2 linked regions of the Homo sapiens genome follow. The protein of the gene in region 2 purifies or fractionates together with the protein of the main gene of each other region. This does not show direct contact. Each region holds a gene or a part of one and is shown on either strand. Other genes may lie near its edges.

Region 1 (3,500 bases), on a different chromosome or scaffold from region 2:
ACATGGTGGACCCCGTCTCAAGAGCGTATTCACGCCTCATGAAAACCCTGCCAGGCAGGCACCGTTACTTCCCAATGACAGGCAAAGGAACTGAAGCACAGAAAGGTTTTGCTTAAGGTCACTCAGCCAGCAAGTGGCAGAACCGGGATTTCAGTTTGGGCAGCCAGACTGCAGAGCTTGCTCTCTGCAGATTATAACACAGATATGGGGCTGTGCGCCTCCATCTGTGCACAGAGGGAGACTTCTCCAGAAAGACACAGGTGGCTGGTAAGGAAATTGAGAAGATGCCTGAGTTGCTCGGTGGCTTCCTGGAAGCCCTAGTTTTCCCCTCCAGAGTGGCTTCCTCCCCAGAGGGAGCATGAGAGTTCTGGTCTACCTGGGTGCCACTGGGACTTTAGTACTACAGCATCAATGTACAAGCATGGCCTAACATGAGTCGCTGCAGTATTAATATAGCTAGGCCGGGGGTGGTGGCTCAGGCCTAGAATCCCAGCACTTTGGGAGGCCGAGGTGGGTGGACTGCCTGAGGTCAGGAGTTCAAGACCAGCCTGGCCAACATGGTGAAACCCTGTCTCTACTAAAAATACAAAATTAGCTGGGCGTGGTGGCGTGCGCCTGTAATCCCAGCTACTTGGGAGGCTGTGGCAGGGGAATCGCTTGAACCAGGAGGCAGTGGTTGCAGTGAGCTAAGATCATGCCATTGCACTCCAGCCTGGGTGACAGAGTGAGACTCTGTCTCAAAAAACAAAACAAAACAAAACAAAAGCTCCTTTGTGGGAGGAAGGGGGAGGGTATCCACAGGCTGCACCTTTGTTTAGGTAATGCTCTATTTTTCTTTCTCAAAGCTTACTTTTCTGAAGCAAAACTTAAATACAGTAATGTCCACTCATCTTAAACGCACAGCTCAATGCATCTGAACTCGTGTGTCACTGAAAGACACAGAACACTGTCAGCACTCTATGACAACCCCACCTAAAGCAGCTGTGCTCCCGATACCCCATCTAACAGCCTTGTCAGTTCTTGAACTTCACATCGATGAAACTGAATCGTGTACTTTTCTGTTTCTGGTTTATTTTGTTCAACATAAAGTTTGGAAATGAAGTTAGGTTGTTGGATTTTACCAAGAATTCTCATTTATTGCTGTGTATGGAGATAAAATGCACAGATAATGCTGTGTCTGGTTAGAATATACCACGTTCATTTATTCTTTTCCCTGTTGATGGACATTTGGGCTGTTTCCTAGTTTCGAGCTGTTATGAATAAAGGTCCTTTGGATGTTGTAGGTGTCTTTGGCAGAAACAGGCATCTTTCTTTTTTCTTGTCTTTTTTTTGAGATGGAGTCTTGCTTTGTCACCCAAGCTGGAGTGCAACGGCGCAATCTCGGCTCACTGCAACCTCCGCCTCCTGGGTTCCAGCGATTCTTCCGCCTCGGCCTCCCCAGTAGCTGGGATTATGAGTGCGCAGCACCAAACCCGGTTAATTTTTTATATTTTTGGTAGAGACGGGGTTTCACCCTGTTGGCCAGGCTAGTCTCGATCTCCTGACCACAAGTGATCTGCCTGCCTTGGCCTCCCAAAGTGCTGGGATTATAGGCAAGAGCCACTGCACCTGGCTGGCATCTTTCTTTTTTAAAGTGACCTGAATAGCACACACAGACTGGCTAGAAGATACTCTCAGCTGCAGATTTTGGGAGTGAGGGGAGGAAGACCCCTGAAGAATTCTGTACACCAAGGTGGGCCAGACAGACACACAGGCAGGCCCTGGCCTGCTACTAAGGGTTCACACTGTCAGGCCTCTGAGCCCAAGCTAAGCAATCATATCCCCTGTGACCTGCACGTACACATCCAGATGGCCGGTTTCTGCCTTAACTGATGACATTCCACCACAAAAGAAGTGAAAATGGCCTGTTCCTGCCTTAACTGATGACATTATCTTGTGAAATTCCTTCTCCTGGCTCAGCCTGGCTCAAAAGCTCCCCTACTGAGCACCTTGTGACCCCCACTCCTGCCCGCCAGAGAACAACCCCCCTTTTTCCTTTACCTACCCAAATCCTATAAAACGGCCCCACCCCTATCTCCCTTCGCTGACTCTCTTTTCAGACTCAGCCTGCCTGCACCCAGGTGAAATTAACAGCTTGATTGCTCACACAAAGCCTGTTTGGTGGTCTTTTCACACGGACGCGACTGAAACACATCAAGGGGCCCAGACCTTCTGATCTGCTCCAAATGTGCCCATCCCCCTGGGAAGGCCAGCCGTGTGCTAGGGACTGTGAGAATACACTATCTTCATATGAACGAGGCTAGAAATGGAATTCTAGGAAACGGAATCTATGGGGAGCCACGCTGTGCTATGTTATACACACTGTCTATACAGCACTCAAGAAAACTGCAAGGTAGCTACTACCTTCATTCTGCAGCTGAGGGAGAAGGTGTGGAGAAGAGAGCCCTGCCCAGGGTCAGGGCTCACCATTGTTACCATCACAACAGCGTGTCTGGCCCATGTCAAGTGCTCAACAGACATCCGCTGAACAAAGGCTGAGTGAACGGTGGCCCGGATGGGAAGCCAGGCTGCCGGGCCCAGGTCTACGCTGTGATTCGGCCATGGGCTCTCAGGCCTGGTGTCACTGATGTGCTCAATTTTAGAGCTCTGATCCCTGAAAATTCAAGTTTTGTTCTCTCAAGGCCACCATGAAAAATGCAGACAACATGCTTCACCCAGCACAAGCCCACAGAAGGGCCACGGCAGCCGGTTGGACTCACATCACATCTGCATGGTGTCCAAGTGCAGCAGCTCCTTCCAGGGCTGTGTGGACCCCACCAAGCCTGAGGCTGCCCTGAACCTGCCACTGACACTCTCACCCTAGCAAATTCCAGACCAAAGCATGTCCATTCACAAGCAAAGGGGAGAGGAGCTCACAGAACAAGGGGAGTAAAAGACGCCCACTCACCCGGCTTCCTATGAATCCTGGGAATCCCGTAATTCCAGGGGGGCCAGCCACCCCAGGGAATCCTGGCAAACCGGGGATGCCGGGGACTCCGATGTCTCCCTTGACTCCTTTGATGTGGCCGGGCCTCCCAGGCAGCCCAGGGATTCCTGACAGCCCTGGGATGCCTGGCATTCCTTGGATACCTGCAGGAAGACCCTGGTGTGTAACACTCTGGTGAGGACGCAGCACCCGCCCTCCAGTTTTCAATTTTGCAGCCTGGATGCATTTTGCTGTCCTACGTGCTGTGAATCTTTTTTTTTTTTTTTTTTTTTTTTGAGACGGAGTCTCGCTCTGTCGCCCAGGCTGGAGTGCAGTGGCGCAATCTCGGCTCACTACAAGCTCTGCCTCCCCGGTTCACGCCATTCTCCTGCCTCAGCCTCCTAAGTAGTTGGGACTACAGGCGCCCACCACCATGCCGGCTAATTTTTTTGTATTTTTAGTAGAGACGGGGTTTCACCGTGTTAGCCAGGATGGTCTTGATCTCCTCACCTTGTGATCCACCCGCCTCGGCCTC
Region 2 (4,272 bases):
TGGTTTAGGGTGCTGTGTGATTCATGAATTGTTTCTTTGCTCAAATAAACTCTGCTACGTTTAATTTGTCTAAAGTTTTCTTTTAACAGGTGCGCTCCGAGCGTGGGAACCACTGTTCTGCTCTGGAATTCCCTAGAGGCCCCTTCCCTGGTGTGTTCCAAAAGCAGAATCTCAAGAATGACAGGTGGGAACTCCCCCGCAAAACCCTTAGTTCTCCTGAGTCTCCCAAAACCCTCCTTGCGTGTCTCCCTTATCTCACCAGGGTGGAAAACAACCCCTGTTGGCTGCTCTAGCCCCTAGTTCTCTGCTTTAGATAATAGAGGCAGGTGTGACCTGCTCCCCACTCCCCGCACCCAAATGATGGGCTTTATTGAATTCTCCATCGGGTTTCTGACTTGGATTTCTGGGTCCTCGCGACAATTCTTTTGTCGCGAAACCCAGAAAAGATCCTGGGTTTCGTGGCAGATCAAGCTGGATTGGGGCCCTAGCACTGCCATGTATGAATTAGGTGATGTGGGACAGGCTACTTAAACTCTGCCTCAGTTTCCACAGTATAAAATAGAGCTGATAATAACACCTCTAGCCTTACCCATTTTTCTGGTGTTTGTCTATTCTCCAGTGCCTCTGCACAGCCTCCTCATCTCTCTCAGGACTCAGCAGTAGCCCCTACCTCGTCTCCCTGCCTCCTGTTCAACTCCCTCCAGCCCTTTTACCCATCTGCAGCTGCATCTTTTTAAATTCTCAAAAATTCAAGCTGATCGGTTCTGCTTTGAAGTTTTCAGGGACTCCCCATTGCCCACCACAGGGCTGATTCTCACTAATGTAGCCCAGGGGGTCTTTGTGACCCAGTCCCTGGTGACAGTTCTGCCTCCAGCCTCAAATCTGGCCCTTTGGGGTCTCAGCCACAGCAACACTGGGTGCCAGGGGTTCTTCCAGCACACATCAGCCTTTTCTCCCACTGTGGGGCAGGGCAGGGCATGTCACATCACTATAGGGCAGGTTACAGCAAGACAGGTCACTGCAGTTCCCCAGGGCAGGTCATTTTGATTTTTCCATGTTTGCTGAGCCCAGCTCTGGACTGGGAGCAGGGAACAAAGATGGATCTGCCTCAGTCCTGCCTATGTGGCTCCAGTCTGTAGGTCCCTCATCTCCCTGCCTCATCTGGCTCACTCCATCTTGTCCTTTGAGACTCAGGTCCCAGGTCACCGCCTCCAGGAAGCCTTGTATCTGTGCTTCTCTATGGCCTTGCCCCATGACAGGCAGTGAAATCTTTGCTTAGCTTTGGTCACTGCCATACCTATCTGGGATCTCCTCTCAGGCACAGGCCCTGTGCGGTATGATGCCAATGGTAGGATGGGCTCCCCTGCCAGCTCTGGGGAGATTGCATGTCTCACCTTCTCCTGCGTTAATTCTCTAAGATGAGGGTGAAAACTCCATCCACCCCACAATATTGTTGTGAATACCAGACGTGGCTGTTATCAGTGCTTGGCTTATGTGACCTCACTTAATGGGTCATCCTGGGGCCCATTTTACAGATGAGAAAACTGAGATCCAGGGAGACAGAGTAACTCCCCCTGAGCTGGAATTCTAAGCCTAGATGTCTGACATCGGAGCTTGTGCCATGCCATTCTGCCTATCTCTACAGAGAGCAAAATGATGAGTAAAGCAGCTCTTAAGAGTACCCAGCCATGGTCAGGTGTGGTGGCTCATGCCTGTAATCCCAGCACTTTTGGAAGCTGAGGTGGGCAGATCATCTGAGGTCAGGAGTTCGAGACTAGCCTTGCTAACATGGCGAAACCCATTTCTACTAAAAATACAAAAACATTAGCTGGGTGTGATGGTGTGTGCCTGTAATTCCAGCTACTCGGGAGGCTGAGGCTGGAGAATAGCTTGAACCCAGGAGGCAGAGGTTGCAGTGAGCCGAGATCGCACCATTGCACTCCAGCTTGGGCAACAAGAGTGAAATTCCATCTTAAAAAACAAACAAACAAACAAACAAAAAAGTACCCAGCCATATAAAAATGCAGAGTATCAATATTATTCATGCATTTCATGTCAAGTATGCCCTCTTTGTTCCTCATCTCTGAAGAGACTCACTTAGTAAATATTCACTGTGTTCTCTGTTTTCACAAATGCCCTATGAGCCAGGCACAGTTCTTGACCTTCTGTAGTGAAACCTCATGACATGTGGTACAGTGCAGACAGTTCTGTTCTCTGTGCATTATCTCTGCCCCAGGTCACTGAGTGAGGAGCCATGGTGGAGACAGGTCTGCGTGACTCAGAAGAATACCCCTGCACTGGGCCAGCTGAGCCCTCCCAGGCCCTGACCCGCGGCCAGCATCCTTCATCGGTGGTGCCGACTGGAGCAGATGCATTGTAGCTTGCAGGCTGCGACTCTGTGGCTGTTGTGGCTGTTGTGGCTATCTGGCTGGGCTTAGGAGCATCAATCATGGCAGTGGACGAGAATGGTTCTTAGCTACAGCCCTCTGTGTCAGCCCCCTGCATGGCAGGAACCCAGGGGACATCGGAACCCCTGTGGATGACTCACAGACTCCGGGGTCTGGAAAATCCTAACCAGATTGCCTCATAACACTGCTGGCTGCCCTAATGTTCAATGTGCCCTTTAAAAAAACAAAGCATCTCAACAAACCAAACAAGCGAGCTGCAGCCATGGCTTTGCTCTGGAGGCTGGGCAGGGGGAGGGACAGAGGGTTCTCAGGTGTTACTCACAGTCTGCGGTGGGCTCAGGCTGTTTCTGCTGGCTTGGTCCTGCTGTCCTGGACCCTAGCATGTGTACAGTAAGCCTGCGGTGGATGCTGCCTGTTAAATTTTGTTTGCCAGCTTCCTGGGTGGTTAATGGTTAGAGGGGCCAGTGGCCTTCACCGCTTGGTAGTCCTCTCCCCCGAGTCATTAACCAATGGGAGGCTTTGTCAGGATAGCTGAGTAAACACAGAAATGCTGCAAATTAACTTTGCTCTGCGTTCAATTCTATGAAGTCTTTTTTTAATACCAAAATGTGGCTGGAGTTGCATCAATGTGGTTGCCCTGTGTCAGTTGGCAGAGATGTCTTAGGTGCCCTTAATTAGCACCAAGGTGCAGATACTTGTAAAAAGAAAAATAGGTGTTTAGCTCCAATTGGGGATGACTTGGGCAAGGTCCTGCCTTCCAGTGGTCTTAGTCTGGTGGGAGAGACAGACATGGAATAATATCTGCCAAGCGCTTCCTCTGGATTATCTCACGAAATCTTCACAATGACTCTGTGAAGTGGGTACCATTGTCACTCCTCTTTAGATAGGAAACTGAGCTGCATGGAAGTTAAGTTAAACGCCCTTGAGATTCAAATCCAAGGCCATTCAATTCTAAAGTCTAGCACCTTCCCCTTTCCCCACATTTTATTTTTCATCAGTTTTCTTTGGATTACAGGTGACAGACATCAAATTTGAACTGCTTTAAAGCAAAAAGGAATGAATGAGAGGTCCAAGGGTGGAAAGGACTTCAGGCATGGATCTACGGAGTTCTAAATCAGGCATCAGATCTCTCCTTCTCTCTCTCTCTCTGTCTTTTTTTTTTTTTTATTCCTTCCTAGCTCTGCTTTCTTCTACTTTATTCTGTCTGCATTGGGGACAAATGTGGCCACAGTAGCTCTGGGTTATTTAGTTCTAACTGGTTAGTTGATATCAGAAGGAGAGAAATTCTCATTTTTCTCAATGTTCATAACAGTTCCCCCCAAAAGTCTATGGCGTGGTTGCCCCCCTTAGGACTGATTGATCACAGTGTGGAGAAGGATGAGGCATTGTGAATGCCTCGCTAGGGTTCTTTGCTCTCTGTTGGGTTGACAGCATCATTGCTTCCATCCAGAGATGAGGGAATCTCTTCCCAGGGGAAAAGAGGAGAGTAGAGCCTACAAATGGGTCTGCAGTTTTGGAGACACCTTAGTTTTGTAGATGTTTATTGGTCTTTTCAAGTTTCCTATCCTATAAGGCAAGTTTGAACTTTATATCTAGGAATTTATCTATTTCATCTAGATTTTCAAATTAAATACTACAGTTATTCATTAGGCCTCTCCATTATTATTTTTACATTATTATTTTATATCAGTAATTCTTTTTTCTTTTTTTGTTCTGTATTTTGTTTATGTCTTTTCTCCCTTTGATAAGTCCTGTTACAGAGATCTATATAGCTAATTAATCTTTCCAAAGATCCACCTTTTAGTTTTGTTACTGGTTTTTTAAAAAATTGATATTTCATTGATTTCTGTTTATATCTTTATTT

The links. The genes of interacting proteins can lie anywhere in the genome.
Region 1: the proteins of SERPINA6 (region 2) and COL4A2 purify together in Homo sapiens (affinity purification with mass spectrometry, with the first as the bait; one large-scale study listed by BioGRID). This does not show direct contact.

The regions. Positions count from the first base shown.
Region 1 is NC_000013.11:110,485,284-110,488,783, reverse strand, and holds part of COL4A2 (collagen alpha-2(IV) chain preproprotein), read right to left. Parts: intron 3,130-3,500; coding exon 2,948-3,129; intron 1-2,947. UniProt on the Homo sapiens protein: Type IV collagen is the major structural component of glomerular basement membranes (GBM), forming a 'chicken-wire' meshwork together with laminins, proteoglycans and entactin/nidogen.
Region 2 is NC_000014.9:94,320,537-94,324,808, forward strand, and holds the start of SERPINA6 (corticosteroid-binding globulin precursor), read right to left. Parts: upstream 2,801-4,272; 5' UTR 2,731-2,800; intron 1-2,730. UniProt on the Homo sapiens protein: Major transport protein for glucocorticoids and progestins in the blood of almost all vertebrate species.